4 linked regions of the Homo sapiens genome follow. The protein of the gene in region 1 purifies or fractionates together with the protein of each later gene. This does not show direct contact. Each region holds a gene or a part of one and is shown in the gene's direction. Other genes may lie near its edges. The genes, in order: ISLR, MTG1, TUBB8 and ATP13A3.

Region 1 (8,636 bases):
CTTCCCCTGGAGCAGAGGGATTATTGTGACTCCCCCATTCCAGACCCCAGATCCTGCTTCATCCTCAGGGTTAAACTAACCCTGCCCCACCCACTCAACCTGCACCCGCGTCTAATCCAGACCCTTCATGCTGACCCCTAACAAATGGCCCTTGGCCCATTCCTAGTGCCCCACAGCTAACAGAGGGTCGTGATCCTGACCCTATAGCACTGGTTCCAATCTAGAACTTTAAACTGAACACTCACTGTCATTCATAACACTCCCCAGTCCCACCCCTACCCTTTGGGAAGGGCTGGGGCTGAAAACTCGAGGTCTGTGATGTATCCTGGGGGTGCGGCCAAGTTCTGCATTCCTGGAAACTGGGACTGGCTTGGGGAAAAACAAAAATAATTCCTATGAAGTATGCTTCAATTGGTGCTACTGCTGAAAATAGTCCCTGAGGATGAACATGAAGGTCAGGAGAGAGCAGTGGGAATGGTGCCAGGAGAGGGGACCAGAAAAGTGGCTGGAGATGGCCCTGAGTGGAAGGGCAGTGACAGTCAGCAGGGAGGGCTTAGGAGGCCCTGGGCAGACGGAGGAGGGAGGAGAGAGGGGGGCAAAGGCTCCAGCTGGAAGGTCAAGGTTATTGTTCATTCATTCCTTTGTTCAGCAACTATTTGTTAAGCACCTACTAAGTGGCAGGCCCTTTGCTGGGCACTAGGGGGATAGCAGTGGACAGAACGAAGTACCCACCTGTGTGGAGCTCACATTCAGATTGCGGAGATAGACAGGAAACACACTAACAGAGATGTCAGGGGAGGGGAGGGAAGAAGGACAAGTAAGGCAAGGTGAGGAGACAGCAAGGGACAAAGACTGTTTATATAGAGTGGCCTGGGAAGGCCTTTCTGGGGAGCTGGCATTTGAACAAACCTCAAAAGACAAGAGGAAGGGAGCCCTGCAGGTGTGGACAGACTTTGTCCAGTTAGAGGAAATAGTAGGAGCAGCAGCCCCAAGGTGGGAGCAGGGCACACGTGGGGCTGCACACAGTGAGCAGGGCCAGAGCAAAGGGGGGTGAGGCCAGGGAAAGTGGCCAGGTTGCCCACCAAGGCTCACCTGGGTTCCTAGGTCAGAGATCCTGAGAAGAGGGGAGAAGCCCTCATGCCCAAGTGGTGGGAAGGGGTGGAGGAGAATGGGGAGGAAATGGGAGTGAGGCCACCCCAGGTAAGGTCAGCTGCAACCTCTGGGCTAGGGTGACGCCAGAAGAGAAGATAGGGCCTGCAGTGCCTCTCCCCCATCCACAGCCCTGGGTGCACATGCCACGAGCTCCTGCTCACTCCACCTCACATCCCCACACTTGTGCATGAACAACACACACACATGGAGAATAGTCACAGGCTCACCTTTCACATGCATGCACACAGAAATTGTGCATGAACACACGCATGCACACGGGCCCCTTGTGTTAGTGTAGACATTTTTGAGAATTCTAAACAGGCAGAATATAGGGGCCAAAGGACTTTAGACCAACTCTCACGTATGACAGAGGCACTAAGGCCTAGAAAAAGGAAGCCTCATAATTTGGTGACCTAGGCAGATCACTCTATGTCCCCCCATGCATGTGCATGTTGTGTGTGTGTGCGCGCGCACACACACACACACACACATGCACGCACGCAGTCCCACCAGCTGTCCAAAGCTCCTTCCATAACCCTATCTTCTCAACAGCCTCTCTCTCCCAGGACACCCACAGGCTTAACCAAGTCCCACCAGGAGTGCCCCGAGTTTCCTCCCAGCTATTCCAGCAGGCTGCTGGGGGGAATACAGTGTCGGGACCAAGATAGACTCTGCCCCTCTTGGTGGGATGGCTACAGCCCACAACCACAGCTGACCACAGCAGCCCCCGACTGCCTCTCTCCTCTCAGAGCCTGTTTCCGGGTTCAGACCTTCTTCCTCCATCTCTCTTTCTGGGTCTTTCTCCCTTGCTTCCTTTCTCTACCTCCAGAAAGGAGGCTGTGATTCTCTGTTTTTCCCTCTCTTTCCTGGTGTCTCTCTCATTTCTCTGTTTCTCTCCAGTTTTCTGTCTCTGCTGGGCTTGTCCCTCTCGCTCCATCTTCTCATCAGGATCTTTTTTTTTGCCTTCCAGGAAAAGCTGACGTGGTGCCCCTGGTCAGTGGGAGTGAGGCCTTCTGGGGTGGGGGAGTCCTGGTTGAGCAGCCACAGCTGGGGTGCGGCTGGCGCCCTGGCTAGGGGCAGCAGGAGCAGGAGCAGAGCGAGAGGCAGCGGAATGGGAGGAGAGAGGGCTGGACCTCTGCAGGCAGGAAGGGGAGCAGGGGGAAAGAAAAACTGTGGGAGGGAGTGAGCCCCCCTCCCCTGCTAGGGTGACCAACTGTACTGGTTTGCTGAGACTGTCTCGATTTTAGCATGGAAAGTCCCATGTCCCAGAAAACCCATCAGTTCCAGGTGAACCAGGACTGTTGGCTGGTCACCCTACAAGCTGCCAGGGACCCACAGGAGACAGGGCCAGGACTCACAGGAGGGGCTCCCAAGCTTGGCCTCCTAGTTCTGGGGACAGTCAGGGCCGCACATACTCACCAAGGGTCCCCATCTCAGGCCTGAGCCCAATTTAGAGGAGGCCAGGAGAGGGGAGATGGCAGCCCAGACAGCCCACAGGAAGCTCCCAGCCTGAAAAGATCAGGGAGCCCGACTTCTGACTTGTCTCCCTGCCTGCTGGCATGATCTCCTGTGAGGTGGGCTTTACAGAAAGAACTTGAGCTCTGACAGCAAGAGAAGAGCAGAGGGGCAACCCAGGAGGTCATACGCCCCATCCTCAGAGGCCTGCACAACTGCTCCTGGGCTCTGCTGAGGAGCAGGCCCACCTGTCCCACTGTGAGACACCTTGGAGAGTCAATAGTCCTTGGCTGAGATCCTGGCGGCCTTATTGTCCTTCCTGGTGGAAGCGGGTATGGCCACACCTTGCAGGCAGTGGCAGGACCTGAGCAGACCAGGAAGATACATCAGTGACCAGCACGCACAGTCTCATTTCTGCCCAGGTGGGCTGGTCCCTCCCACTTTTCCCGCCCTCAGCCCCCCACATCTGTTTTGAGGTGGGAGTCTGAGCTTAGTGTTTGGCTGTCATTAAGGTCTTAGGTAGGGAATGAGGGGACAGACTCCCTGCCCCCAGAAGGCTGCTGACATACTCACCCACCCAACAGAGCATGGGTCTCCTACACTGTATGAAATATTCTCTAAAATGTCTTGGGCATGCCCCTTCCCTAGCCTGGGCCCAAAGGCCCTATCTGTAAGTTGATGAGGAGATGAAGTGGGTGAGCTCTAAAATGCTTCCTTCTGATGACCACCCAACTTGTCCATCATGCCATGAAGGGGGCGCTTACAGAGTGTCTTCCCTGTGCTGGAGATCAATAGCACCTGGGAAGTTAAGGCCTCTGCCCTCAGTGGGCTTCCTCTCTAGTAAGGGGTCGCACATTAAGCACGCATGAATAAATAATCACAGCTTATAGGAGGAGCTATGAAGAAAAGTCAGGAATGTCTGAGAGAACAGTCACTGGGAACTGAGGGCTGAGGAGGTGCTTGTACTCTGACCCTGATGTGCTTGCAAGGAGGGAGGTGGGGTGGGAACTATGAGCTCCTCAGAGCACCCTGGAGGTAAAGCTGGTGGCACAGACTTTGTGCAGGTGAGGGTGTGTGTATGGGCTGTGCAGAACATAGTGAAGCCCCCTCCACCAGGAAGCCCTCCCTGACTGACACTGAGGTCACTGAGTCTCCCCTCTGGTTTACTGAACCCTGGATGTGTTTCTTGCAGCCTCTGGTTGGCCCACCAAATTCAGGACTTTCCTAGAAATTCTCCAGCACAGTCAGGATGATGCAAGAGAGGGCTTCCTCTGCAGGGGAAAGAGAGGGTGCTCTCCATTGGACCATAATAATATCCTCAGCATCAGACTCGGGTGTTTTGCAGGCAGCATGCTGGGGACTTCTGTGGCCTTGCTTGGTGACAGGGAATGGGGTGTGATGAGCTGGGGCAGGCTTCCTGGGGATGCTTTCAGCCAAAGATGAGCCCTGTCTGCCCTTGGCCCTGCTGAGAGGGTAAGTTGAGTCATGAGCAGAATTCAACCAGTTATCAGATGGAAGGCCAAGGAAGCTTGGGGAGGGCTACTGAGGGGATACGGTAGGCTTGTCTGTGGAGAGCAAAATTCTTCAGTCTACAAAGTTCTTTTCTGGGCTCCTTCATCTTTCGGTTTCTCTTCCAGCTCCCTCGTTTTGGGCCTCTTTTGTTTCCCCATTCCCCTCCCCTGGGCCTTCCCGTTTGGAAAAGGGGTCACATATCCTCACCCTGGAGGCGTCTGCCCCTTCCACACAGTTGGTGTTGGAACAGTGGAGCTCAGAGAGGCCGATGCTGACCGCGTAGATGTCCAGCACCAACAGTGGGATTTTGGGCCCTGTGGGGGACACAGAGAGAACTCTCCGGGAGTGCGGCCCCTTGGCCTCCCCTCTGGGTGCCCAGTGGGCAGTGGGCCTGGGTGGCTCAGAATCCCAGCCAGGAGCACTGAAGGTCAACAGGCTCCCGCCCTGAGTTTTCTGAGCCAGGCCTCCCTGTTTCCTCCCCAGCCAGTGGGGAGCGCAGTGAGGGGCGGGGCCTGGAGTCTTGGGAGCTCCCTGGACAACAACATGCATTTAGCGCAGCTCAGTCTCAGAGCCAGCAGGATATGTTTTCTTAAAAAAAAAAAAAATGCCTAACATCTTGGCTTTCACCGAAGGGTTGGTATCTGCTTTGTACACTTTGGCCTTCTTGGCTTTTCACTGAAACACACACACATGGATGCACACTCACTTCCACACACAAACCCACACCAAGACAGACACACACACACACTCACACACAAACTCATGTACATGGTTTCATACCCACATCCATGCAAACACACATACAAATCCAGAAATACGCACCCTCACACCCACAAACTTGTACACACACACACACGTATACACACCAACACACATACAACCCTGGCTTGGACAAAAGCTTCCCGTTTTTTCTTGTTTGAAGTGGAAATCTCCCACCTTCCATGAGATTCAATTTCTCGCCCTTCCCCCGCTAAAATCCTCCTGGCCCCATCATTTCTTGGGTCCTTTCCAGACAGTGCTGTGTCTTTAAGGAAGTTGAAGCTGCTAAAAGTGAGTGAGAGAGAGAGAAAAAACACAACCCAAAAAAATTTGGCATCTCTTCCCCCCTCAAGTTTCTGGTGTCACTTATGAAACACAGGTCCTTGTTGCTGCAGAGAAGCAGTTGTTTTGCTGGAAGGAGGGAGTGCGCGGGCTGCCCCGGGCTCCTCCCTGCCGCCTCCTCTCAGTGGATGGTTCCAGGCACCCTGTCTGGGGCAGGGAGGGCACAGGCCTGCACATCGAAGGTGGGGTGGGACCAGGCTGCCCCTCGCCCCAGCATCCAAGTCCTCCCTTGGGCGCCCGTGGCCCTGCAGACTCTCAGGGCTAAGGTCCTCTGTTGCTTTTTGGTTCCACCTTAGAAGAGGCTCCGCTTGACTAAGAGTAGCTTGAAGGTAAGCCAGTGGGGAGGAGGGCTCCAGGGCCAGCGGCGGGAGCGGGAGGCCTGTTGGACATAGGGGCTGGTTCCCTCTTGGTCCATCCCTGCTGGTCTGAGGTGCGTGGGACAATCCCTAGCTTGGAGCCGTCCAGGGGGCATCTGCTTCTTCCACAACCCACAACTGAGGCCCCAGAAATCCCAGCTGCGTTTGGGCTGAGCCTCTGGCCTCACCCAAGTCAGCTGAGAGGTCCTGGCGGGGGTTTATTTAGGCAGCTGCCTGGCTAAGTTTGAACAGAACAGGCCACGGGTGTGATTCCACAGAAAAGGCCTGGTGTCTGCTGCGGTCATGGCCGGAGGAGCGGGAGAGGGCGGGTGGAGTGGATGGGGGTGGTGTGCACTGCACAAGGGGCCTCGTCTGGGCCAAGGCAAAGCATACCTATGGGGGGCTCCGGTGGGAGGGACTGCGGCCAGGATGTGGGAGGGCAGGGGGAGGTTCTGCAAAGTGCTGGGGGAGGGGGGTGGCTGGAAAACAGATTTCAAGTCATAAAGTCAGCTAGGAACAGGCCGAGGCAGGGAGAACTCTCCACTCGGAGGAGGAGCTGGGGTCCTCTTCCATCCCGTCTTCATCCTGCCTGGCTGCGTGACCTCGGGCAAGTCTCCGCCCTTCTCTTGGCCTCAGTTTCTCCTTCCGTAGGATGGGGGCGGTGGGCTAGGTGGTGTTGGGATTTAGCTGGGTTATGTGGGACAGGGCCTCCTGATGGGAAAGAGCTCTGGCTGGGCTTGTGGGAGGAATGAGTCCCTTTGGCAGGTTCTCGGGATCCCCTGGGTGACATGCCTTTCTCTGCAGGAGGCACCATGCAGGAGCTGCATCTGCTCTGGTGGGCGCTTCTCCTGGGCCTGGCTCAGGCCTGCCCTGAGCCCTGCGACTGTGGGGAAAAGTATGGCTTCCAGATCGCCGACTGTGCCTACCGCGACCTAGAATCCGTGCCGCCTGGCTTCCCGGCCAATGTGACTACACTGAGCCTGTCAGCCAACCGGCTGCCAGGCTTGCCGGAGGGTGCCTTCAGGGAGGTGCCCCTGCTGCAGTCGCTGTGGCTGGCACACAATGAGATCCGCACGGTGGCCGCCGGAGCCCTGGCCTCTCTGAGCCATCTCAAGAGCCTGGACCTCAGCCACAATCTCATCTCTGACTTTGCCTGGAGCGACCTGCACAACCTCAGTGCCCTCCAATTGCTCAAGATGGACAGCAACGAGCTGACCTTCATCCCCCGCGACGCCTTCCGCAGCCTCCGTGCTCTGCGCTCGCTGCAACTCAACCACAACCGCTTGCACACATTGGCCGAGGGCACCTTCACCCCGCTCACCGCGCTGTCCCACCTGCAGATCAACGAGAACCCCTTCGACTGCACCTGCGGCATCGTGTGGCTCAAGACATGGGCCCTGACCACGGCCGTGTCCATCCCGGAGCAGGACAACATCGCCTGCACCTCACCCCATGTGCTCAAGGGTACGCCGCTGAGCCGCCTGCCGCCACTGCCATGCTCGGCGCCCTCAGTGCAGCTCAGCTACCAACCCAGCCAGGATGGTGCCGAGCTGCGGCCTGGTTTTGTGCTGGCACTGCACTGTGATGTGGACGGGCAGCCGGCCCCTCAGCTTCACTGGCACATCCAGATACCCAGTGGCATTGTGGAGATCACCAGCCCCAACGTGGGCACTGATGGGCGTGCCCTGCCTGGCACCCCTGTGGCCAGCTCCCAGCCGCGCTTCCAGGCCTTTGCCAATGGCAGCCTGCTTATCCCCGACTTTGGCAAGCTGGAGGAAGGCACCTACAGCTGCCTGGCCACCAATGAGCTGGGCAGTGCTGAGAGCTCAGTGGACGTGGCACTGGCCACGCCCGGTGAGGGTGGTGAGGACACACTGGGGCGCAGGTTCCATGGCAAAGCGGTTGAGGGAAAGGGCTGCTATACGGTTGACAACGAGGTGCAGCCATCAGGGCCGGAGGACAATGTGGTCATCATCTACCTCAGCCGTGCTGGGAACCCTGAGGCTGCAGTCGCAGAAGGGGTCCCTGGGCAGCTGCCCCCAGGCCTGCTCCTGCTGGGCCAAAGCCTCCTCCTCTTCTTCTTCCTCACCTCCTTCTAGCCCCACCCAGGGCTTCCCTAACTCCTCCCCTTGCCCCTACCAATGCCCCTTTAAGTGCTGCAGGGGTCTGGGGTTGGCAACTCCTGAGGCCTGCATGGGTGACTTCACATTTTCCTACCTCTCCTTCTAATCTCTTCTAGAGCACCTGCTATCCCCAACTTCTAGACCTGCTCCAAACTAGTGACTAGGATAGAATTTGATCCCCTAACTCACTGTCTGCGGTGCTCATTGCTGCTAACAGCATTGCCTGTGCTCTCCTCTCAGGGGCAGCATGCTAACGGGGCGACGTCCTAATCCAACTGGGAGAAGCCTCAGTGGTGGAATTCCAGGCACTGTGACTGTCAAGCTGGCAAGGGCCAGGATTGGGGGAATGGAGCTGGGGCTTAGCTGGGAGGTGGTCTGAAGCAGACAGGGAATGGGAGAGGAGGATGGGAAGTAGACAGTGGCTGGTATGGCTCTGAGGCTCCCTGGGGCCTGCTCAAGCTCCTCCTGCTCCTTGCTGTTTTCTGATGATTTGGGGGCTTGGGAGTCCCTTTGTCCTCATCTGAGACTGAAATGTGGGGATCCAGGATGGCCTTCCTTCCTCTTACCCTTCCTCCCTCAGCCTGCAACCTCTATCCTGGAACCTGTCCTCCCTTTCTCCCCAACTATGCATCTGTTGTCTGCTCCTCTGCAAAGGCCAGCCAGCTTGGGAGCAGCAGAGAAATAAACAGCATTTCTGATGCCCCTCCGTGTCTGCCTGGAATTTTGTCTGGATCTAGGAGCCTCTGCTGGGAGATAGGATCAGGAGCTGAAGAGTCAGGGCAGCCAGCCTGCCTGCCCACAGTGGCAGGGGCCTCTGAGACTCCAACAGACTGTGGAGGCACAGGAGTGCTGGCCCGATGCTGTGTCAGGGGCTGGGCCTTGCGGTGAGCTGAGCTGCAGATGTTCCCTTCCTCCAAACCATCCCACAGGACAGCTG
Region 2 (6,107 bases), on another chromosome or scaffold:
AACAGTGTAAAAGTGTTCCTATTTCTCCACATCCTCTCCAGCACCTGTTGTTTCCTGACTTTTTAATGATTGCCATTCTAACTGGTGTGAGATGGTATCTCATTGTGGTTTTGATTTGCATTTCTCTGATGGCCAGCAGCACATCAAAAAGCTTATCCACCATGATCAAGTGGGCTTCATCCCTGGGATGCAAGGCTGGTTCAATATACGCAAATCAATAAATGTAATCCAGCATATAAACAGAACCAAAGACAAAAACCACATGATTATCTCAATAGATGCAGAAAAGGCCTTTGACAAAATTCAACAACCTTCATGCTAAAAACTCTCAATAAATTAGGTATTGATGGGACGTATCTCAAAATAATAAGAGCTATCTATGACAAACCCACAGCCAATATCATACTGAATGGGCAAAAACTGGAAGCATTCCCTTTGAAAACTGGCACAAGACAGGGATGCCCTCTCTCACCACTCCTATTCAACATAGTGTTGGAAGTTCTGGCCAGGGCAGTTAGGCAGGAGAAGGAAATAAAGGGTATTCAATTAGGAAAAGAGGAAATCAAATTGTCCCTGTTTGCAGATGACATGATTGTATATCTAGAAAACCCCATTGTCTCAGCCCAAAATCTCCTTAAGCTGATAAGCAACTTCAGCAAAGTCTCAGGATACAAAATCAATGTACAAAAATCACCAGCATTCTTATACACCAATAACAGACAAACAGCCAAATCATGAGTGAACTCCCATTCACAATTGCTTCAAAGAGAATAAAATACCTAGGAATCCAACTTACAAGGGACGTGAAGGACCTCTTCAAGGAGAACTACAAACCACTGCTCAATGAAATAAAAGAGAATACAAACAAATGGAAGAACATTCCATGCTCATTGGTAGGAAGAATCAATATTGTGAAAATGGCCATACTGCCCAAGGTAATTTATAGATTCAATGCCATCCCCATCAAGCTACCAATGACTTTCTTTTTTTCTTTTTTTTGAGATGGCATCTCACTCTGTCGCCCAGCCAGGCTACAGTGCAGTGGCACAATCTCAGCCCACTGCAGCCTCCACCTCCTGGGTTCAAGCGATTCTCCCGCCTTAGCCTCCCAAGTAGCTGGGATTACAAGCATGTGCCACCACACCTGGCTAATTTTTGTATTTTTAGTAGAGACAGGGTTTCACCATATTGGTGAACAGGCTGGTGTCGAACTCCTGACCTCAAGTGATCCGTCCACCTTGGCCTCCCAAAGTTCTGGGATTACAGGCGTGAGCCACCATGCCTGGCTGGATGCCATGTATTTTGAGTTTCACCTTGTTAGGTGATGGATATCTACATTCCTGTAAAAATTCTTGAGCTTTGTTGTGGGACAGTTAGATTATTGGAAACAGTCCGGTCCTTTCAGGAGTTCTTCCCATTGGCAGGTCTCGGGGGTGGTCCGGGGCGCCTCCTCCAGGCTTGCTCCTCTCTCCTGGGACAGCTTTTTTGGAGCACCAGGGCACCCTTGAGGCTGCTGATTCAGAGCTCATGCTTGGTGCCTCCGAGAAGTTAGATTTAGAACCTGTGTTACTCAGGGTTCTGATGCTCCTATGGGCTCTGAGCTCATGTCTTGCTTTGCTGGGCCTTGGGGTGAGTCCTCTGTTACCGGCTCATGCTGTGACCAGGTCCGAGGGCACCAGCCTCCTCAAGGTTGAGCCTGCCCTCGTGGGAGCCACGAGACAGGTTCCCCTCACCCCTGGCTGTCAGGAAGGTTGGGAGAGTGTTGGGTCTGGGTTAGTCGGGCTCCCAAGGCTTAGGGTGGTGTTTGTCCCTGTGAGTGGCTGCTCTGTGCTGGCCTTTCCCTCCAGGCCTCTCTGCCCAGAGCCTGCACTGTGAGGAGTCAGAGTGCCCGTTACAATCACTGGGTGACGCTTAGCAGCGGTGGGTGCCTAGTCAGCCCATGCTGGTCCCTGTGCTAGGAAAACACCGCTCAAACACCCAGCCGGGTGGAGAGGATGCAGGTGTACTGGCTGCCTGGAAGTTACCGAGTGCCATCCTTAGCAGCAAACAGAGTATGTTTGCAGATGGTCTGCTGTGCTCCTCTTTTAGTTTCCAGGACCTGGGCCTGCACAGAGGCCTGCCTGTCCTACCCCGGATAGAGTGGATGAAGCCTGTGTGTGTGAACAGCTGTTACTCCTCCCGCTGCGGCAAGGGCTCCGGTGGTGGGAGCCGCCCCCCATGCTGCTGGCCGTGGCCACACAGGACGAAGCTCAGGGATGATTCTTAGATAGTGGCTCTCCCCCGGGGCCCAGCACCGGTCACCTGCAGTCTCATCTTGGTCATCCACAGCGCCGCAGTCACTGTCACCCACAGGAGGTGCCTGGCCGTGGCCTTTGTGGCATTCAGGAGGAAGGGCCCGGCCTGGCTGGCCGCGCGGTGTCAGTGCTGGGCCCCCTGGTGCTGACCTGCAGCCTATGTGCAGGTACGTGCAGCACTACGGCCTGGGCAGTGCCTGTGACAACGTAGAGCGCGTGCTGAAGAGTGTGGCTGTGAAGCTGGGGAAGACGCAGAAGGTGAAGGTGCTCACGGGCACGGGTGAGTGAGGTCGCTGATGCGGGCACCGGAGCCTCACCCCATCACCCTGGGGGACCCCGGCCATCCCTGGAGGAGGCAGGGAGGAGAGGAACGTGTCAAGGAGCATGCGCCGGGTCTTCTGGGAATGGGTTTCAGGGCAGGGGAGCTACAGAAAGTTCTGGAGAGGAAGGGCTTGTAGTCCAGGCTTCCGAGGGTGAGACCAGCCCTGCCGCGTATTGGGCAGTGCTAGGTGGACACCTGCAGGCCTCACATGCCTGGCCTTGGAGGCTCCGGGCAGCGTAGCTCAAGCTGTTTTCTTTCTGAGTGTGATCCCGTTCCCTGGGCTTCCCTGATGCCATCATGGAGCCTCTTAGGGCTGGTCCCTCAGGTGGGTAAGGGCTGGGCCTGTCCTGCTGTGAAGGCTCCTTCCTCACTGAACCCTCCCGTCCCCCAGGTAACGTGAACATTATTCAGCCTAACTATCCTGCGGCAGCCCGTGACTTCCTGCAGACTTTCCGCCGTGGGCTGCTGGGTTCCGTGATGCTGGACCTCGACGTCCTGCGGGGCCACCCCCCGGCTGAGACTTTGCCCTGAACTTGTCCGGGTAGGGAGGGCCGGAGGCATGTGGCCTCCCAGACCTCCTGACCTGGGTGGTTGAGGCTCAAGACAGCTCACCCGGTCCAGAAGCTCCATGCTGGTCACTAGGGTGCTGTGCTCTCTGGCGCCCCACAGCCTGGCCAGCTCCAGGGACCCCAGTTGCAGGGCCCAAGCAGGTGGGAGTGGACACCAGGCTTCCCAGTGGACGTCCCTGAGCAGCTCCGCATGCTTGGTTCTCCCGGAGCTTCCTGCTCAGGCCTCTTGAGAAATGGATGCTGTCTCAGAAGGAGTTAAAGCTATAACCTGTAACCTTTAAAATCTCCAGTTAAAGGGCCTGTTTCTTACTGGCCTGTGAGGTGCACCGTAGTGCCTTGGGCCTGTGTGTTAAAGCTGCTCTCACCAGTGAAACCTAAGAAATGAGCAGGTTGGCAGCTAGGGTTTGTGTTGGAGGCTTTCGGTCCAGTGTCTTGCAGTCCTACAACAAGTGAGAGGCTTGCTGCCATCAGAGAGGTTTATTTCACACTTACAGGCACACACAGACACAGACCAGAGACTCCCAGCAGCAGAGCCCAAGCACTGGCTTCGCCCCTCAGTGCCCTGGGGCATGTTCAGGGCAGGGTTGAGGGGGACGCCCTGCACATGGCTTTGCTGTGCAATGACTGGAAGGCCGCCCGGCATGGGCAGTAGAGACCCCTGGCCTCTGAGCACCTTCTAGCTCACGGGTAGTGGGATTCTGCATTAGTGGGGCTGAGAGATGTGGGGGCCCCTCCAGCCCCATTATAGTGCACCTGAAGGGGTCCACAGCCTGTGTCCTAGAAGAGGGAAGAGGAAGGAAGGTGGGTGGGGCTGGTAGTATGGACTAAGGTGCTGCAGGACCTGGGGCCAGGGACATCCTGTGCAGAAGCTCCGGCTGCCTCTTTGCGGTGGTGGCCTGACCGTCCCACAGCAGCCTCCACCAGGGCCCTGGTGCTCAGTGGCCCCTCTTTGCTGGCTGGCTGCCTCTGCTGCCCCATACCCCACACACTCATCAGCCTGAAGTTAGCCCCTGAGTGCCACCTGCATCGTGCCATAACCCTGACCGCCTGGGGCAGGAAGTATTCAGGTTGGCTGTGTCAGATGCTAATGTGCTGAATCAACAGTCATTGCAGATCACGAAGTGTCCATCATAACTGGAACATTCCATCAGCTTGCAGTGCTGTGGTGTGTGAGGGTCTGGTGCAGCTCAGCCCATTTTCCAGGTGGGCATCTGCAAAGTTGAGGGGGCTCCGGTGGGTCTCTCTGCTGTGAGGAGACTCAGACCACCCCCTGCCTCCTGGGGGAAATGTCAGAAGGGCTTCTCTGCCTATGAGGATCTGGGGCAGGGCTTGGCCTTGGCCTGCTGGTCTTGGAGGCGTTGAGCTTGGTCTGGAAGGGGTGGAGGAGCGTCTGGGCTCACTGGGCCAGGGGCATTGCTGGCAGTGTGGACGGGAGGCTGCAGGGCGCTGCCTCCTGTGGCTTAGTGCCCTGGAGCTAGAGAGCAGTGCTTGGTTGAGTCCTGCCAACAGCTTCCAGATCCTCACCCAGGCCAGAACCCAGGCCAGCTGGGGAAGGCAGAGGCTGGCAGGGCCCGTGGTGGGTGCTGGTCTTGACTTTGGTGTCCACTGAGTCCCGAGGCTCAGGCCCAGGAGGGATGCAGTCCGGCTGAGGGCGAGGCTGTCCCCAGGACATGGAGAGGGTGAGATCCCAAGGCCACGGCGGGGGGCAGGGAGAACCCCTCCTACCCTGGATGAGTGGGTGACTGGAGAGCTAGAGAACGTGGCAGACCCAAGACCTCTCAGTGCTGAGCCCATGGAGGATGCCCCAGGCTGGCGGGACTGGGAAGCAGAGGGCTGGTCTTAACACAGGTGTGTCCAGTGCTGGAGGCAAGTCCTTGTCGTGACTGTCCAGCGCCACTCCATGTCTCTCCTGTCCTTGGATGTTGGGGGGCTCAGCCTCTTGCATGGGTGTCCTGCTGGGCGCTGGGCCCCGCCACTGGCCCCCTGCTTGCTTTGGGGTCTGAGTTAGCTCCTGGCTCCACTGAGCAGGCCGTCAGCTGCCAGCCCACCACGCGGATACCCAGGCCCTGTTCCGAGGCCTGGAACAGCTGCTTCCGAAGAAGGGGCTGCCTTCAGGGAAATGCGTGCACCGTGCAGCCTGTGCTGTGCCCAGGGAGGCCTCTTCAGCGGGATTGGCAGTTGCTGTGCCCTGAGAACAGGCAGAACTGTGTGATCCCTGAATGTGAACCTGAAGTTCAAAGGACTTGGAAAGCTCTGGAATGTGTTGGTTTTTCCCCCCCAAAATGGGTCCTAAGGAGGGTAAAGTGACTTGTTTCAAGTTGTTGGAGCAAAGTGGGTCTCTCACGGATCTCGGCCTGAGGGTGTGGGGGAGAAGGCCTGGACAGCCCCTCAGGGCAGGGTGTGTTTTCCCACCAGCCGCAGAGAGCCAGGATGGACGTTCCTCGGACGGACGGTTTTCCTGCTTGGGAATGTTCCTGGGCTGTGAGATCCACTCTTCTGGGCAGGTGGTTAGCACCTAACGTTTTTCCCTCACTTCCCCCCAAATTCTTAAGTCCTTTGGTCCATTTCACTGCTTCTTTTGGGGAGGGTCAGATTCCTCAGGGGCTCAGTGGCAGAACCAGCCTGATGTCGCCTCCCTGCCCGTGAGTCACCACGGCCCCTGGGCAGGCGAGGGGAGCCGGGGTGGCTTGGGTTCCTGGCCTTGGCACCTCCCTTTGGGCGGCGATGGAGCGTGGCTGGGCGGTTGGTACAGGAGCCACAGGCAGCTGCCTTTTTGGCTGAGGGGACCCTAACATCCTGGAGTGGGTGGGGCAGGGCCCATGGTCTCCTCTAGGTGGGAGGTGGCAGGCTGAGGCGGCGTGGGCAGGACGGTGGATGGCGGGTCCACAGGGACAGCCAGCAGCTCCTGCACCCAGTGGGGCT
Region 3 (8,823 bases), on another chromosome or scaffold:
TTATAGCAGTGCAGAAACAGACTAATACACTACAATATATTGAGTTCAAAACATTCTATAGAAAAAAATATAATAAAAGAGTGGACAAAAATTTAATTGGACATTTATGAAAATAAGACATACAAGTGGCAAATAGGCAAATAAAAAGGTGCTCCACATTACTGATCATCATAGAAATGCAAATCAAACCCAAAATGAGATATCATTTCACCTCAGTTAAGGTGGCTTTTATCCAGAAGTCAGTCAAAAACAAATGTTGCTAATAGCCAAGATTTGGAAGAAACCTAAATGTCCATCAACAGATGACTGGATAGAGAAAATGTGGTACATATACACAATGGAGTACTATTCAGCTATAAGAAAGAATGAGAGTCTGTCATTTGCAGTAACAGAAATGGAACTGAAAGTTTTTATGTTAAGTGAAATAAGTCAGGCACAGAAAGACAAATGTCACATGTTCTCACTCGTTTGTGGGCGCTAAAATTCAAAACAATTGATGTCATAGAGATAGAGAGTATAAGGTTGGTTACCAGAGGCTGGGAAGGGCAGTGGGGGAACGGGGTTAGTGGGGATGTGAAATGGGTACAAAAAATTGTTAGAAAGAATGAATAAGACAGTATTTGGTAGCAGAACAGGGTGATTATGGTAAAAAAATAATTTATACATTTTATAAAAACTAAAATAGTATAATTGGATTGTTTATAAAACAAGCTATAAATGCTTGAGGGGATGGATACCCTGTTTTTTATTGTGTATTACTGATTGCATGCCTGTATCAAAGTATGTCATGTACCCCCATAAATATATACACCAACTATGTACCCACAAAAATTAATTAAAAATTACAATTAAAACCAAAAGGAGGAGAGTCTAATGAGGCAGGTGTGACCCATGGCTTGAAGTAGCTTTTCAGGTTAACTTTGGAATGTCCTTATCCAAGAAGAGGTGTCCATTTAGTCAATAGGGGCTTAGAAATTAATTTTTAGTTTATAAGTGGAAAAAAGAAGAATTTTTAATCCTGAGCCATAGCTCTCAGTCAGTCAGTCCCTGCAGGGAACCCTGTTCTTTACTCTGGAGATAAACACTGTTTTTCTTTTCCACTGAATAACACCACATTTCAAAATGAGGGGAAACATCTTGAAACTAAGAGGTATGGCCTTACTAAATTTGTTTTGGTTTCCATTGTAATTAATTTAATCACATGTGTTCTAGAGTTTGTCCTCAGTCTTCTACTTTAGGCTCATGATCTGTTGAATTTGCTCAGCTCCCTGCTCAACAGCAGGAAATCAGAATTATTTAAAAGCCTCATTGTGGCTGGGAGCAGTGGCTCATGCCTGTAATCCCAGCAATTTGGGAGGCCAAGGTGGGCAGATCACTTGTTGTCAGGGGTTTGAGACCAGCCCGGCCAACAGAGTGAAACCCCATTTCTACTAAAGATACAAAAATTAGCTGGGTGTGGTGATTCATGCCTGTAATCCCAGCTACTTGGGAGGCTGAGGCAGGAGAATCACTTGAACCTGGGAGGCAGACGTTTCAGTAAGGCAAGATGGTGCACTGCACTCCAGCCTGGGCAACAGACCAAGACTCTGTCTCAAAATAATAATAATAAATAAAAATAAAAATCTCATGTTTCAAACAAAATTTCTTTTGCATATCAACTGTGTCAACTTGCATATTAACTATAATCATTTTGTTTACTTTATGTCCAATCCTGAGAAATCTTTGAGTACTAATTTCACTCTTTTCTGCCATTTTGGTAAACATACCAAATGCCATCAAACAAAATGCACAAAATTCCTGAGAAATACATTTTCTCCTTGAGGAGTATACTTGTTGTGTTAGAGGAACTCGTGGTTACCAAGCTTCTAGTTTAATACACATGACTAGAATTCTCTATCTTAATATGAGTAGCTAGGTACTCACAAGGCATCTAGAAGGTTAATACCTATGGTCTGAAAATAGCCACATTTTTTTACTGGCCACAGATTACAATTGCAGAATATTTATGGCCATACAAGACATCTTCCACCAAGCCTGAAAAATGTATAAATGTCCTAGGAGTGCAGCATTTTTTGTTAAAGATAATATTAACGAGCTAGCTTAGGTCAACGGGTTAATGGTCATTGTTAAAACGAATAGCCCCGACTTTAATGAGTACATCTGCACCTTCCAAGTTTAATTATAACTCTTTCTCTTTATAGTTAGAGACACTAACAAAAGACAATGCATTCCTGCTCTTGTTTTCTGAGGATGTCCAACTCTGTAATGGAGTCATTTCTAATAAACTTGCTTCTTTCACTGTGCTCTCTGACTCACCTCAAATTTTTTACTGCACAAGATCTAAGAATCCTACTTTGTGGTCTGTGTCAGGACCCTCTTTTCTAGCAACATCTTTCAGCAACACCATGAAGGGACACCAAGACAAGACCCCCACTCCAAGGAAAACAATCCACATAGAATCATTTAGCTGGCAAGTGGGCTGTGTTTTAGGGTCATGAAGCCATTCAGGTTGGCAAGAATGATTACCCACTATTACTTAAGTGAGAGGCCCTAGGGTATAATATTAGGGTGAGAGACTCAGCCCAAAGTAGAGACCTGGGGGTGTCATACTCAGATTAGAGGCCAAGCCCACAGGGTTAGAGGCCCTGGGGAACATTGAGAAGAATGGATTTGGCTAAACAAGATGTTTGCCACTTTCTCTTTTTGGACTGTCCACCTTGTGCTCTTTGTCCCTCACCTGAGTGCTCTGCATATTGTTGCCTTTCTGCTCACCGCCTCCGTTTTGCAGTAGCCTGGAGGCAGCCCCAGGAAAGAGGCCCCAAACAGTTTAGCTTTTACTTTCCTTAGCGATCCTCTGACTTTTAGCCTTGATGTCTTAGAGCTATTGCTGCTACCACTTTTCTAGTTGGCAAAGATAATAAACTAACATTAGAACAGCACCTACAGGTTTTTGACCCCACACCAAGGGAAGGTGGTCCTAGAAGGTAAAGGGCAGCAGTGGATAATAGGAGAATATTTATGAAAGTGTCAGGACTTATTGCTAGACCGACCCTCCAGACACAACCCTTAAAGCCTGCCAAGCCATAAACCCAGCTACTTAGCTGTCAGAGTCCACAGGTGCTTCTAGTCTTTCTGGCATACAGGCTGTATTAGTCTGTTCTTATGCTGCTAATAAAGACATATCTGAGGCTGGGTAATTTATAAAGAAAAGAGGTTTAATTGACTCACAGTTGCACATGGTCGGAGAGGCCTCACACTCATGGCAGAAGGCAGGTGAGGAACAAAGTTACATCTTCTACATGGCAGCAGGCAAAAGAGCTTGTGTAGGGAAACTCCCCTTTGTAAAATCATCAGCTGTAATCCCAGCACTTTGGGAGTCCAAGGCAGTGGATGACCTGAGGTGAGGAGATTGAGGCCAGCCTGGCCGACATGGTGAAACCTCGTCTATACTAAAAGTAGAAAAATTAGACAGGCATGGTGGTGGGCGCCTGTAATCCCAGCCACTCGGGAGGCTGAGACAGGAATCGCTTGAACCCAGCAGTCAGAGGTTGCACTCCAGCCTGAGCAACAGAGCAAGACTCTGTCTCAAAAATAAATAAATAAATAAACCATCAGATCTCATGAGGCTTATTCACTGTCATGAGAACAGCATGGGAAAGACCCATCCCCTGATTCAATTACCTCCCACTGGGTCCCTCCCACAATATATGGGAATTAGGGGAGCTACAATTCAAGATAAGATTTGACTGGGGACACAGCCAAAGCATGTCACAGGTTATGAAACAAATTGATTCTAGCAGGCCAGACATAAGAGAGATGATTCCCTGGACCATCCCAAGGAAGAGTGGTTAACAGATGCAAGTTGTTTTATGCATCAGGAAAACAGGAGGGCTAAATATGCTATTATTAGCACAAGAGAATCAATCAAGGCACAAGCCTTGCTGGCTTCGACCTCAGCAGCTCAAAAAGCTGAGTTAATTGAACTAACTAGGCCCCTGCAGTTGGGAAAGAATTTAAAAGTTAACATTTACACTGATTCCAAGTATGATTTTTTAGTGCTTCATGCTTATGCTGCAATTTGGAATGGGTGGGGACTCCTGACCCCCAAGGGCTTTTCCATACAACATCGTTCAGATTTTGAGCTTGTTAGAGTGCTGCTTTGCTGCCAAAAAGTGAGTATAATTAATTGCAGAGGACATCAAAAGAGAGACTGACCATGTAAAAGGAAATGCCCTTGTAGATGCCACAGCCAAGGCCCCTGCACTGAAAGGGCCAATGAAGCTTGTGGGCGTGCTGGTCAGCATACATAGAACTGGGCCAGAATACCCTGAAGAAGAACGAAAATGGGCCAGGGATTGCATTTCAGTCCAGGGCCCCTCGGGCTGAATGATGGTAATAAATTACTAATGCCAAGTACCAATCACAGGAGTATAACTCAGCACTTTCATGATTCTTTTCACCCTAGAAGGGATTCTTTGTTTCTGTTAATGTCTCATTTGTTTATAGGGGTAAATCTTTTCAAGACACTAAAACAGGTGACTCAGCCCTGTGAGCTTTGTGCCTGACATGACTCAAATGGCCAGCAATTTTCTCCTTCTCCAGTTAAACCTGTCCAAAATTGAGGAACCTATCCAGGTGAGAACTGGCCACTCTAATTTACCCGGAAGCCTTTCTGCAGGAGATTCAAATATTTGCTAATGCTTACTGACACCTTCACTGGTTAGATCGAGGCATTCCCCACCCCATCTGAAAAATGTTTACCAGAAGAAATAACTCCTCAGTTTGGGTAATCCAAAAGCCTGCAAAGTGACAATGGCCCATCTTTCACAGCAGGCGTATCCCAAAACCTGTCCTCAGCTTTAAGAATCCAATATGACCTTCACTCTGCTGGAGACCACAGTCCTCTGGAAAGGTGAAAGGGCTAACCCTACTCTAAAGAAGACTCCAGCTAAATCAGAGGCCTGACTGTCTCTAACACCCATAGCTTATTGTGGGTTAGAACTGCTCCAAAGTAAAACGTATAATTGAGTCCTGTTGAGTTCACATGTGGAAGGCCTTTCCTAACCACAGATCTCCTAATAGATGAAAAGACTCATCAATTACAAAAATATGTCATCAATCTAGGACAGGTGCAAAGGCACTCCGTGCATATGGAAACAAGAGTCTTCCCCTCCCACATGGGAGGAAAATTCAGTTTCAGCTCAGCTAGGGATTTAGTCTTACTAAAGACGCGGGAGGAAGTTCTCCAGCGAGCAGCTTTCCCCAACGTGGAAAGGACCACGCAAGGACACCTGAGCTTTCCAACAGATGTTCAGCGCCAGGGGATCCACAGGTGGGTGCACCTGTGTGGAAGTAAAGCTGTTGCTTATTCTGGGAGCCGAATCCGAGGCGGAGGGAGGTGGGCGCGGGGCTATTTAAACGTTGGCGGAGGGCGGGCTGGGTCGCTGCGCGTCTGCTCCTCCTTCTCACGTTTCTCCTGCCGTCCTAATCCCGCCTTGGCCATGAGGGAGATCGTGCTCACGCAGATCGGGCAGTGCGGGAATCAGATCGGCGCCAAGGTTGGCAGCCGGGGCTCTGAGGGCCTAGCCCGGGCCTGCCGGGTGGCCGGGGAAGGTGTTGGCAGTGGCGGGGGCGGTGCCCATGCATTGCGGCCCCTGGGCTCCCTGCCGGGGACGGTGGAACCGGGTGGCTGGCGAGGCGGCCGGGGTGGACCCCAGGGACAGGGCGGCCTAGGGATGGGGGTGCGGATGAGGGTGGGGGTGGGAGAGCGGCTGGGGCGCCTCCCTGACTCAGCCCCGGCCTGTCTGTCTCCTCCCGTCTCTTGCAGTTCTGGGAGGTGATCTCTGATGAACATGCCATCGACTCCGCTGGCACCTACCACGGGGACAGCCACCTGCAGCTGGAGCGCATCAACGTGTACTACAACGAGGCCAGCGGTGAGACCCCCGTCCTTCCCCCACCGCCCTCCTGGGAACGCGGCCCTCCCCTCGCTCATGCCCTCCCGCCCCACGCAGGTGGCAGGTACGTGCCCCGCGCTGTGCTCGTGGATCTGGAGCCGGGCACCATGGACTCTGTGCGCTCGGGGCCCTTCGGGCAGGTCTTCAGGCCAGACAACTTCATCTTCGGTGAGCTGCGGGCGAGGACTGGGGTGCGGCTCCTTAGCCAGGGCAGCTCAAAATCCAGGAGTGTGCTAAGGTCATCCTCTGGGAACTGTGGAGCTAGGGCCCCTGAACACCCTCCTATCCTCCGAGTCGAGTCGCTCAATCTGCCTCTCCTAAATGGGCTTCGGGAGGAAGGCCCTGGTGTCTCCTCAAGGTGAGGAGTTACTGATGTAAACTCCCTGCAAGAACCTGAGCTGGGGCCGTGGCTACTGCCTTTCCTGAGAATGGGCAGGAGCCACCTGCAGCGAGGTCTGTGAACCCGTCTCAGGTTTGACTCCTGTCTTAATTCCTAACAGGGGAAGCTGCTGTCCTGTAACTCTGGGGGAGGGGGTTTCATCTGCTCCACCTGCAGGGCGAACGGTGCTCTCACCTCACGTGTGACGCTTGGCTCTTTCTGCATTATGGTGGTGACCACTGATGACCGTATACCTGGCCGTCGAGTGACCGGCTGTGCTGTCTTACAGGTCAGTGTGGGGCCGGAAACAACTGGGCCAAGGGACACTACACCGAAGGCGCGGAGCTGATGGAGTCAGTGATGGACGTTGTCAGAAAGGAGGCTGAGAGCTGTGACTGCCTGCAGGGTTTCCAGCTGACCCACTCCCTGGGTGGGGGGACTGGGTCTGGGATGGGTACCCTTCTGCTCAGTAAGATCCGGGAGGAGTACCCAGACAGGATCATAAACACATTCAGCATCCTGCCCTCGCCCAAGGTGTCGGACACCGTGGTGGAGCCCTACAACGCCACCCTCTCAGTCCACCAGCTCATAGAAAACGCAGATGAGACCTTTTGCATAGATAACGAAGCTCTGTATGACATATGTTCCAAGACCCTAAAACTGCCCACACCCACCTATGGTGACCTGAACCACCTGGTGTCTGCTACCATGAGTGGGGTCACCACGTGCCTGCGCTTCCCGGGCCAGCTGAATGCTGACCTGCGGAAGCTGGCCGTGAACATGGTCCCGTTTCCCCGGCTGCATTTCTTCATGCCCGGCTTTGCCCCACTGACCAGCCGGGGCAGCCAGCAGTACCGGGCCTTGACTGTGGCTGAGCTTACCCAGCAGATGTTTGATGCTAAGAACATGATGGCTGCCTGTGACCCCCGTCACGGCCGCTACCTAACGGCGGCTGCCATTTTCAGGGGTCGCATGCCCATGAGGGAGGTGGATGAACAAATGTTCAACATTCAAGATAAGAACAGCAGTTACTTTGCTGACTGGCTCCCCAACAACGTAAAAACAGCCGTCTGTGACATCCCACCCCGGGGGCTAAAAATGTCAGCCACCTTCATTGGGAATAATACGGCCATCCAGGAACTCTTCAAGCGTGTCTCAGAGCAGTTTACAGCAATGTTCAGGCGCAAGGCCTTCCTCCACTGGTACACGGGCGAGGGCATGGATGAGATGGAATTCACCGAGGCCGAGAGCAACATGAACGACCTGGTGTCTGAATATCAGCAATATCAGGATGCCACGGCCGAGGAGGAGGAGGATGAGGAGTATGCCGAGGAGGAGGTGGCCTAGAACTCTCCTTTTCTAGGTAAAGGGGGGAAGCAGTGTGGATTCTTTACTGTGTTCTGACAGCCATGTGTCACTATACGCTTGTTAATTTGTGTCTTCACATCTCCTGCTGCGTTTTAAAGCATTTTTATAGTATGCGGTTTTGACTAATAAAGTATTCTCACAGCATCTGGTTTTGCCTCCATCTTCTTTCTATGGGCCCTCTGGCTACTGCTGCCAGATGCGCATAGTTGTCCTGCAAGGCGGAAGCTGTCTGGGTTCATCACATGCCCAGGAACAAGCATTCCAGTGGCTCCAGGAGGGGTCGGTATGGGCTGTGGACATGGCAGGCAGGCTTCACATGAACTTGGGGATGCCCTGGGCCTTGGGCAGTGACGTGGTGGAAAACCTGTTGCTGAAGGCAAGCCTTGGCTTATCCCATATACCAAACTTCTAGGGGACCAGCTGGCCATGTTTCTGGAACGTTAAAAGGGGTCAGTGACCCTGGTGGACAATGTCCCCAGAGTCCCATCTCAGGGTAGGAATGTGGTCAGAGCTGGCTCTGAACCAGCAATGAAGGGTGGGCAAGTGGGACCCCAGGCACTCCATCATCACGATGGCCTGGGTGTGTTTGTGTGGCCTCATTCTCTTAATGAGGTGGGCATGGGATGTCTGGCAGGGACTAGGCAGGAATCAAGCCCAGTGTCTGCTAACATGCACTGAATCCCAAGTAGAAGGGGATTAGGTCCTGGGGGCCGTAGATGGTGGTTGCTGGGCCTGTGTGCGCAGGGCAGTCCCTCCAAAGGCACAGATGGGGTTTCTGAACAGGAGCTGGGGAGACAGGCAGGTGCTCACAAATACTGCTTCCCCCAACTGGCAACCAGTGAGAAAAATGCCTGAGTGGAGGTCTGACCTGCCCCAGTCTGGAGGGCTGATGCTCTCTGGAAAGGTGGCTAATGTGTACTGTCTGCTCTCTCCCTGTCCCCCACTCCAAAACTTCAGGGCAAAAATAATCCAAGATTGTCAGGATGAGCCTGGTGAGGGTGGCACCTTTGGGGACAGACCCTTCAGCCTGGCAGAGTCTCCTCCCCTGGCTTCTTGGGGAGCCTGGACTGCAAAGCCTGCTTTGGGGAAGCTGTCAAATGAGAGATGTGTGAGCTGGGT
Region 4 (8,243 bases), on another chromosome or scaffold:
CCTCACTCTGGCTACTCTTTGGACCTTAGGAAATGGTTTAAGGTTAGGGAAGTGGAAAGGCGGCCTTTTCCCACAGAAAATGTGGCATACAGTATTTGGTTCCCCATTTGATGTGTAAAAAGTGGGAATAAAGAAAGATTTTATATTTTTCTTGAACTGAGGAGATACAGGCTTTAAAATGACTTCCCTTTGGAAATTCACAATCTTGAGGTAGAGCTTGATTTTTTTTTTGTTTTTTTTTTGTTTGTTTGTTTTGAGACAGAGCCTTGTTCTGTCACCCAGGATGGAGAGCAGTGGTGCGATCTTGGCTCACTGCAGCCTCCGCTCCCAGGTTCAAGCAGCTCTTATGCCTCAGCCTCCCGAGTAGCTGGGACTACAGGTGTGTGCCACCATGCATGGCTAATTTTTGCATTCTTAGTAGAGACGGCTTCACCACGTTGGCCAGGCTGGTCGTGAACTCCTGTCCTCAGGTGATCCATCCACCTTGGCCTCCCAAAGTGTTGGAATTACAGGCGTGAGCCACTGTGCCTGTCCAATATCTTATTTTAATCGTGTGAATTTTTTTTTTAATTGTCCTAGTTGATCTGGCTAGAAAATGATTTATATGTAATACATTTTGAAACTGTTAAGAGTCGTGTCTTAAAACACACAAACACATATCTCGTATCTTAAAACACACAAACAAATACATATCTGACACACATGCCTTCTTTGAAGCAAGAAATGTGAATGCTGCAGAGAATTAATTTTAAAAAGAATTTGGCTGTTTGTGGTTGTTTGAGAGAACCACCACATTACTCATTTTCACATCTCTTTTTTGCCCAGCTGTCTTTTCTGTTCTGTGTGTGTGTGTGTGTGTGTGTGTGTGTGTGTGTGTGTGTGTGTGTAGGGGTGGATCGGGGTAGGCCCTCACATCTCTTCTGTACAGTGCTTTCCACTGTTACCATTAGTTCTTAGAGGTGCAGGGACTATAGCAACTACTTAATCTTTTTTGAAATTATTTGAAACTGAACAATGCAACTGTTTCTAAATATAAACAAATATTACCTTTGAGCCACAAATCACTTTCTGGAATTATTGTGGGAGATAATATTTGATACTTCTATGTGAGGAAATTGGTAGACAAAAAATTAAGCCATGTTGTCCACATATACAACTCTCAGTGATTATTGTAAACAGTATGGTAGCATTTAAAATATTTAACAATTTAATATTTTTTGGTGTTCGATACTGATTCCTGTGCTTTCGTTTAATAATTTGTAAACTGTTTTTGTTGTTGTTGTTGTTTTTTAAAGGAGAAAGTGTTCCAGTGACAAAGACTAATTTGCCAAATCCTTCAGTGGATGTGAAAGGAATAGGAGATGAATTATATAATCCAGAAACACATAAACGACATACTTTGTTTTGTGGGACAACTGTTATTCAGACTCGTTTCTACACTGGAGAACTCGTCAAAGCCATAGTTGTTAGAACAGGTAGGAAACATCTTAATTAATCTCTTTTTGCATGTTTCAGCATATTTGATACCTACTAAATGTTTAAAAAGAGATTCTGGGCTGGGTGCTGTGGCTAACGCCTGTAATCCCAGCACTTTGGGAAGCCGAGGTGGGCGGATCATGAGGTCAGGAGATTGAGACCATCCTGGCTAACATGGTGAAACCCCGTCTCTACCAAAATTACAAAAAAATTAGCCGGGCCTGGTGGCGGGCGCCTGCAGTCCCAGCTACTCGGGAGGCTGAGGCAGGAGAATGGCGTGAACCCAGGAGGCGGAGCTTGCAGTGAGTCGAGATCACACCACTGTACTCCAGCCTGGGTGACAGAGCGAGACTCTGTCTCAAAAAAAAAAAAAGAGAGATTCTGTTTTGGGAGATAATTCTCATTTTCTTATAAAAATATCAATAATTGTCTTCTTTTTTTGAAAGGATTTAGTACTTCCAAAGGACAGCTTGTTCGTTCCATATTGTATCCCAAACCAACTGATTTTAAACTCTACAGAGATGCCTACTTGTTTCTACTATGTCTTGTGGCAGTTGCTGGCATTGGGTTTATCTACACTATTATTAATAGCATTTTAAATGAGGTATGTATGTGGGACTCTTAATAGGGTTTGAACCTCAATTATTTATCATATGCAGCTATTGAGGATTTGAAATGTGGCTACTGAGAATGAGGAACTAAAATTTTAAGCTAATTTAATTTTAATTAATTTAATGCTAACAAAGTCATGAGACTAGTAGCTATGATATTAGAAAGCCCAGCTATAGAACATTTCCATTGTAAAGGATACTTCTTTTGGGTGCCTCTGGTTTAGATGGTCTTTTACTTGGTCTTGTGACTTTAAAAAAAAAAAACAGGAAAAAAAACCCCCCCACATAATCACCAAAAGCTTTATTTTCTCTTTTTTACCTCTGAGATGTAATATACAGTGTTAAAATGATTTGTGGTTAGTTAATTGAAGGCGCCGCTTGTCAGAAGTGGAGAGTGGTACAGTAAGGTGTGTGCACGCTGAGTCAATATCTGATAATGATTGTTGACCGGCTTTGAAGTGTGTCATGTGTGAAGTATGTAGCGCCTTGAAAATGAGATAAGTTTCTTTTGAAAGTAGCTGTCATTCTATAATCCATTGAGCTTTTTTATTTTGCAGAAATATCTGAAGAAAAAAATTATATATGGTTAATAGATATGTATATACACACACATACATAAAATTGAAATATACAATTGAAAATGGCTTACAGATTTTCACTAAAGAAATACCCATATTAAATCCGTAAATAATACTGGGGATTTGACATTTATTTTTGTGTTAATTGTAGGTACAAGTTGGGGTCATAATTATCGAGTCTCTTGATATTATCACAATTACTGTGCCCCCTGCACTTCCTGCTGCAATGACTGCTGGTATTGTGTATGCTCAGAGAAGACTGAAAAAAATCGGTATTTTCTGTATCAGTCCTCAAAGAATAAATATTTGTGGACAGCTCAATCTTGTTTGCTTTGACAAGGTGGGTTCAGTTTCATAGTTACTTTCAAAGGTTACTTCGTAGCGTTTAAATATTTAGATCAATGTTTTTTATTTTCTTTGTCAACAAATTTGGACACATTCTGTCATGTTCCTCTAATTTTCCTTTTCCTCCACTTATTTGGTATATGCATCATTTTTCTATACCATAAGTTCTCACTTAACATTACTGATAGGTTCTTGAAAACTGCAACTTTAAATGAAATGAAACCAGTTTTACCATAGGCTAATTGATACAAATGAGATTTAAGTTCCTATGCCATATTTTGGTCACAAAAAATCACCAAACTTCTAAATAAAGATCTAAAACACTTCTGATATTAATCATTGAAATAAATATGAGCTATACATTCATTTAAGAAAGAAATAAAAACAAGTAAGGTAATTATTTACCCAGTTGTTTTATTTCAGGCTCCTGGGTAGTGGGAGCGTATCTCAGCAACTGGCGGAACGAGGCAGGAACCAGCCCTAGACAGGATGCCATCGTATCGCAGGGTGTACTCACACTCGCGCAGACTGGGACCATTTAAATGTGCTGGTTCACTTAACTTGCGTAGCTTTGATGTGGGAGGAAACTGAAGTACCTGGAGTGAAACCCATGCAGACAGGGAGAGAACATGCAAACTCCATGTAGATAGTGGTCGCGGCTGGGCCTCAGCTCTCCCCACCACTGGCACCCATCGTGTTATAAAAAAAGACGGACAAAACAATCGTATTTGAGGACATGCTATATTTCTTATTTTCTCAATTTTTAATACTTTGGATATTGCTTATTTGCTCAAAGCTTCAGTTAACTCCAGAATTAGGCCTAGTAGTATTAATAGTAGTAGCAGTAAAGATTACGTGACCTTTAATTTTTTAGACAGTAATTCTTATTTAACACAATAGGCTCCATACATATATATTTATTATGATTTTATTGCTTGTAAGTGTGTATGTTTAGTGTTTGCTGTATGATTTTATTGAATATGTTTAAGAATTATGAAGGTCACTGATTTTATGTGAAAATGACAAATTATGTACCTGTGTGAAGTATATCTTGCCTCTTAGAAAGGTTTCTCCTTTCCTGAGCTGGAATTTTCTTTAAAGTTTTCTGAGAATTAAACTTTGACCAGAAAACCTTCTATCAAACTTTTCTGGGTAACTGATGTGATACAAATTTGATTTTTGTGCATTTCATTATTACAGAAAAAAATGGGAAACATGTTCTGTTAGAAAAAAATATGTCACATACTGCTACAATTATTTCATATTTATCAGTTCAAAAAATTTCACTTATGCTTGTCTTTTTTGGAAACTTTCCTAAAAGTTTTAAGACAAAAGTGGAGAAAAGATGTGTGTATAATAAACACTCATTTACTCATTACCCAGCTTTATCAGTTATCAACACATTGTCAGTCTTATTTTATCTATCTGCTCATTTTGAAGGGGACAGCATCAGACATTATTTCACTCATAACTACCTTAGTATGTGTCTAGAGGATATTTAAAATATCACTATCACATTTAACAGAATTAGCAATTCTTTAGTTTTTCTAATATCCAGTTGAGATTTCCTCATATCTCTAATTTTTACTAGTTGATTTTTCAGTCAGAATCCAAATAGGGATTACATTGCTTACAATTAACATGTAACAATTGCCTTTACTTACCCCTTATCTCCAGTTATTTTGTTGAAGAAACCAGGTCATTTACCTTGTGGATTTGGCCAGTTGCTTCCTCCTGATGTACTTTAACCTGTTCCTCTTGGCCCTCCTTATACAGTAATCCTTCCTTTTTTGCTTTATAGGCATCCTTTATTGATTGATAAGATAGGTTAACTGGTGCATCCTTCCATTGATTTTTTTTTTGATAGTATAAGCACGTAAATATATACCCCTCTCTGCCCTTACGCAGAAGATTTGTGATCATTGTTTGCACCCCCTCTCCCACTTTAACCATATGTCCTGGAAGCCATTCTCTGTCAGGGATCTTGCCTGTTTCTTTTTTTAACTCTGTAGAACTCCATTATGTTATATGTAGCATAGTTTCTAATGCTGTGTGGTTGCTTTTTATTTTTATTTTTGGGTTTTTTTTTGAGGCATCATCCATACTTTGTGCATGTGTGCTTTTTTGTTTTTTAGACTGGAACTCTAACTGAAGATGGTTTAGATCTTTGGGGGATTCAACGAGTGGAAAATGCACGGTAAATATTAGTTAGACTTGATAGTTTATTAGTTTATTTTTAATATTTTAACATGTGCAACATTCAAACATAAAGGAAGTAATAGACAACTGTGTACCTATACCAGGATTAAACCGTGGACATGTTGCCATATTTGCTTCAGATCGCTTCCTTTAGAATATTAAAATATTATAGAAGTTGCCAAAGTCCCACTGTATCCCTTCCCCAATTCCTACTGCCATTCTGAAATTATTTTTGCATATTTTATATTTTTTCTAAGTATAAATCTATAAATAAGTATCCATGAATGATATACTGTACATATGTTTTGCTGCTTTTTTCCCCTCTCCAAACTTTGTTTTCAAGATTTATCCATGTTGATATGTGCAGATCTAGTTTATTAATTTTAACTGCTCTGTCTTATTCCATTGAATGATTAAACCTTGTCTGTTCTTCTACTAAGGGACAATTCTGTTTTTTCTTCTTTTTTCTCTGCACTGTTGCAAATAGTGCTGGAATTAAAGTTCTTACACATAAGTCCTTGTAGGCATGTGGCTGAGTTTCAGTAAGCTAGATCCCTGTAAATGGAAAGGCTGGGCCGTAGCATGGGCACGGCTTCAGCTTTATGCTTTCTCTCTCAGTGGGTAAAGATCTTTTTACTCCACATTCTTGCCAAACTTAATATTGTCAGACTTGTAATTTTTGCCAGATGGATGGATATGAGTATTACATTGTGGTTTTTACATTCTTCTCATTTCTTATAAAATTGAGCATCTTTTCACATTTTGGAGGGAGGGTCATTTAGCATTCTTCTGTGTATTGTGTGTTTATATCCTCATTTTTCTGTTGGGAAGTCTATCTTATTTGTTAGAGGTCTTTTTTATTTTCTGGATAGGAATCTTTTTCAATATTGTGTATTGAAAATTATCCTATTAGTCTCTGGCTCATCTCTTTACTTTTGTTTCTGTTGCTTTTTGAAGCTCAGAAGTTTTACTCCTGTAGTTTTGTTTGTGTCTTCCCCCCTCCCCCTGTCAAAAGTCTGCTAAATTTTGGTGTATATAGCTTGAGAGACAGTATTGTTTGGCCAATGTAATTTCAAGAGTTGTTGTGTCTTGGAAAATAGTATGTCACGTTGTGACCTTTCTTATCTCTAGTAATGCATGTTGCCTTAAATTCTGTTTTGTCTTATAATTATATAGCTCTATACCAGCTTTCTTTTGCCTGATGTTTGCCTAGTGTGTGTTTTGCCACTTGTTTACTTTTCAGTCTTTCTGTGCCATGATGTGCACATTTATTCAGATATATTAGAAATTATTTCTACCATTGCTCCCCCAATTTACATACACATTTTCACATTCTCATTTTTTCTCTCATTTTCTCACTTTATGCATCCCAATCTTATACTGCTTGTTCTTACATTATCAATATTTATACTTAAAGTTCATGGATGTTAATACTGCCTTTTAACCACTCCCCTGCCCCCCAAAACAAACCTATGGACTGTAAGATACTTTTGGTTATTCTCCTCCCTTCCTATATGTATTTGTTGCATAATATTTTCTGATTATTATTTTGGTCTTATACAGTCTGCATGCTTAGATTTACCTAGGTGTACTAATGCCTTAACCATTGCATCTTGTGTAAATTGCCATCTTCTGTAACTACATTCATTTGCTTTGTTTCACTGTCACTCTTTTTTTTTTTTTTAAGTGAAAGCAAATTTAAGAAAGTAAAGGAATAAAGAATGGTTCCTTCATAGGCAGAGCAGCCCACTGTCACTTGGGTGGTAGTGTAACTATACAGATTTCTAGGTTTGACATTTGTGTTCTCTCAATACTATGAAGCTGTTATTTCATTTCTCTTAATACCTTTTGTTAATTGGTACTGATAAATCTTAGTCTTTTTAGTAATCTTTTTTTTCTCTGGTTGCTTGAAGAATATTTCTTCACCCTTAATTTCTGCAGATTCACTGTGATCTTTTTATTTGTGTGTACAGGATTCATGATGCTTCTTGATTTCATGCTTTCATGTTTTTCATAAATTCTGGAAAATTTTCAGGCCTTTTTTACTTCCATTATGGCCTTTTCCTTGTGTTTTGTTTTCTCTCCTTCTGGGAATCCTAACCATGTGTTGGACAACACATGGTTTACTTGGTTCTTTCCAAGTCTGCTCCCACCCCTACTCTCGCATCTACAGTGTCTTACTCTTTGTATGTCTAATTTTAAAATGCCCTTTTTGCATTCTTTCAGATTTGCCATTCTGTTATCTTAAATTTACGGGATTCTTTATTTTTTTATTTTAAACATAGGAATTGGTATGGGTGTCTCGCTATATTTCCCAGGCTGGTTTTGAACTCCTGGCCTCAAATGATCCTCCTGCCTCAGCCTCCCAAAATGCCGGGATGACAGGCATCAGCCACTGCCCCTGGCCAAATTTATAGGATTCTAATTCTGTCTTTGTTATGTCTGTTGACACTCTTGGTGAATTGTTTGCTAGCGCATCTTTAAATTATGGACTCATTCTTAACAGAATTTTCTTTGAGCTCCCCTCTGGAGAAGTTCTGACTTTGCTTGGCTAAGAGCCCCAGTGGTAATCAACGGTGTCATACAGGCTTTAACTGACCTCCTGTGTTTCAATCCTTGCTCTGCTACTTATGGACGGTGTAACCTGGGACAAGTCACTTAACCACCCTGCTTCAGTTTTCTCATCTATAATGGGGGTAATAAAACACCTTTTCTATGGTGTGAGGATAATGGGCCAATAAATTTAAAGTTCTTAGAATAATGCCTGGTGCATAGTAAATATTATGCAGATATTAGCTATTTTCTTGGACTTTGGGTGAGGAAAAAGACAAGCTTATTCATAATTAATGCCTTTAGGTCTGTGGGTGAATTTTTTCTCATCTGCCCTTTTCCCAAGGGCGTGTAGCTCTTCAAGAGTACTGGCTTTCCTGAGTCAGAGGGATCCTTTCAGTACCAGCTACCCACTTTGCATGGGGCCAGACTTTGTTTCCTGTCCTTTTGTGGGTATTAAATCCCAAGTTCTTAGTTTACTGAG

What was found.
Region 2: the proteins of ISLR (region 1) and MTG1 purify together in Homo sapiens (affinity purification with mass spectrometry; 3 studies listed by BioGRID and IntAct, with this or other methods). This does not show direct contact.
Region 3: the proteins of ISLR (region 1) and TUBB8 purify together in Homo sapiens (affinity purification with mass spectrometry; 3 studies listed by BioGRID and IntAct, with this or other methods). This does not show direct contact.
Region 4: the proteins of ISLR (region 1) and ATP13A3 purify together in Homo sapiens (affinity purification with mass spectrometry; 3 studies listed by BioGRID and IntAct, with this or other methods). This does not show direct contact.

Annotation. Positions count from the first base shown.
Region 1 is NC_000015.10:74,168,471-74,177,106, forward strand, and holds ISLR (immunoglobulin superfamily containing leucine-rich repeat protein precursor), read left to right. Parts: upstream 1-5,239; 5' UTR 5,240-5,549; intron 5,550-6,076; exon of another isoform or gene 6,077-6,183; intron 6,184-6,380; 5' UTR 6,381-6,388; coding exon 6,389-7,675; 3' UTR 7,676-8,401; downstream 8,402-8,636.
Region 2 is NC_000010.11:133,417,019-133,423,125, forward strand, and holds the end of MTG1 (mitochondrial ribosome-associated GTPase 1), read left to right. Parts: intron 1-2,461; coding exon 2,462-2,574; intron 2,575-3,007; coding exon 3,008-3,147; 3' UTR 3,148-5,502; downstream 5,503-6,107. UniProt on the Homo sapiens protein: Plays a role in the regulation of the mitochondrial ribosome assembly and of translational activity. Displays mitochondrial GTPase activity.
Region 3 is NC_000010.11:45,917-54,739, reverse strand, and holds TUBB8 (tubulin beta-8 chain), read left to right. Parts: upstream 1-5,443; 5' UTR 5,444-5,501; coding exon 5,502-5,558; intron 5,559-5,827; coding exon 5,828-5,936; intron 5,937-6,014; coding exon 6,015-6,125; intron 6,126-6,281; exon of another isoform or gene 6,282-6,315; intron 6,316-6,457; coding exon of another isoform or gene 6,458-6,625; coding exon 6,626-7,683; 3' UTR 7,684-7,852; downstream 7,853-8,823. UniProt on the Homo sapiens protein: Tubulin is the major constituent of microtubules, a cylinder consisting of laterally associated linear protofilaments composed of alpha- and beta-tubulin heterodimers.
Region 4 is NC_000003.12:194,441,689-194,449,931, reverse strand, and holds part of ATP13A3 (polyamine-transporting ATPase 13A3), read left to right. Parts: intron 1-1,295; coding exon 1,296-1,475; intron 1,476-1,922; coding exon 1,923-2,080; intron 2,081-2,816; coding exon 2,817-3,005; intron 3,006-5,145; coding exon 5,146-5,207; intron 5,208-8,243. UniProt on the Homo sapiens protein: ATP-driven pump involved in endocytosis-dependent polyamine transport. Uses ATP as an energy source to transfer polyamine precursor putrescine from the endosomal compartment to the cytosol.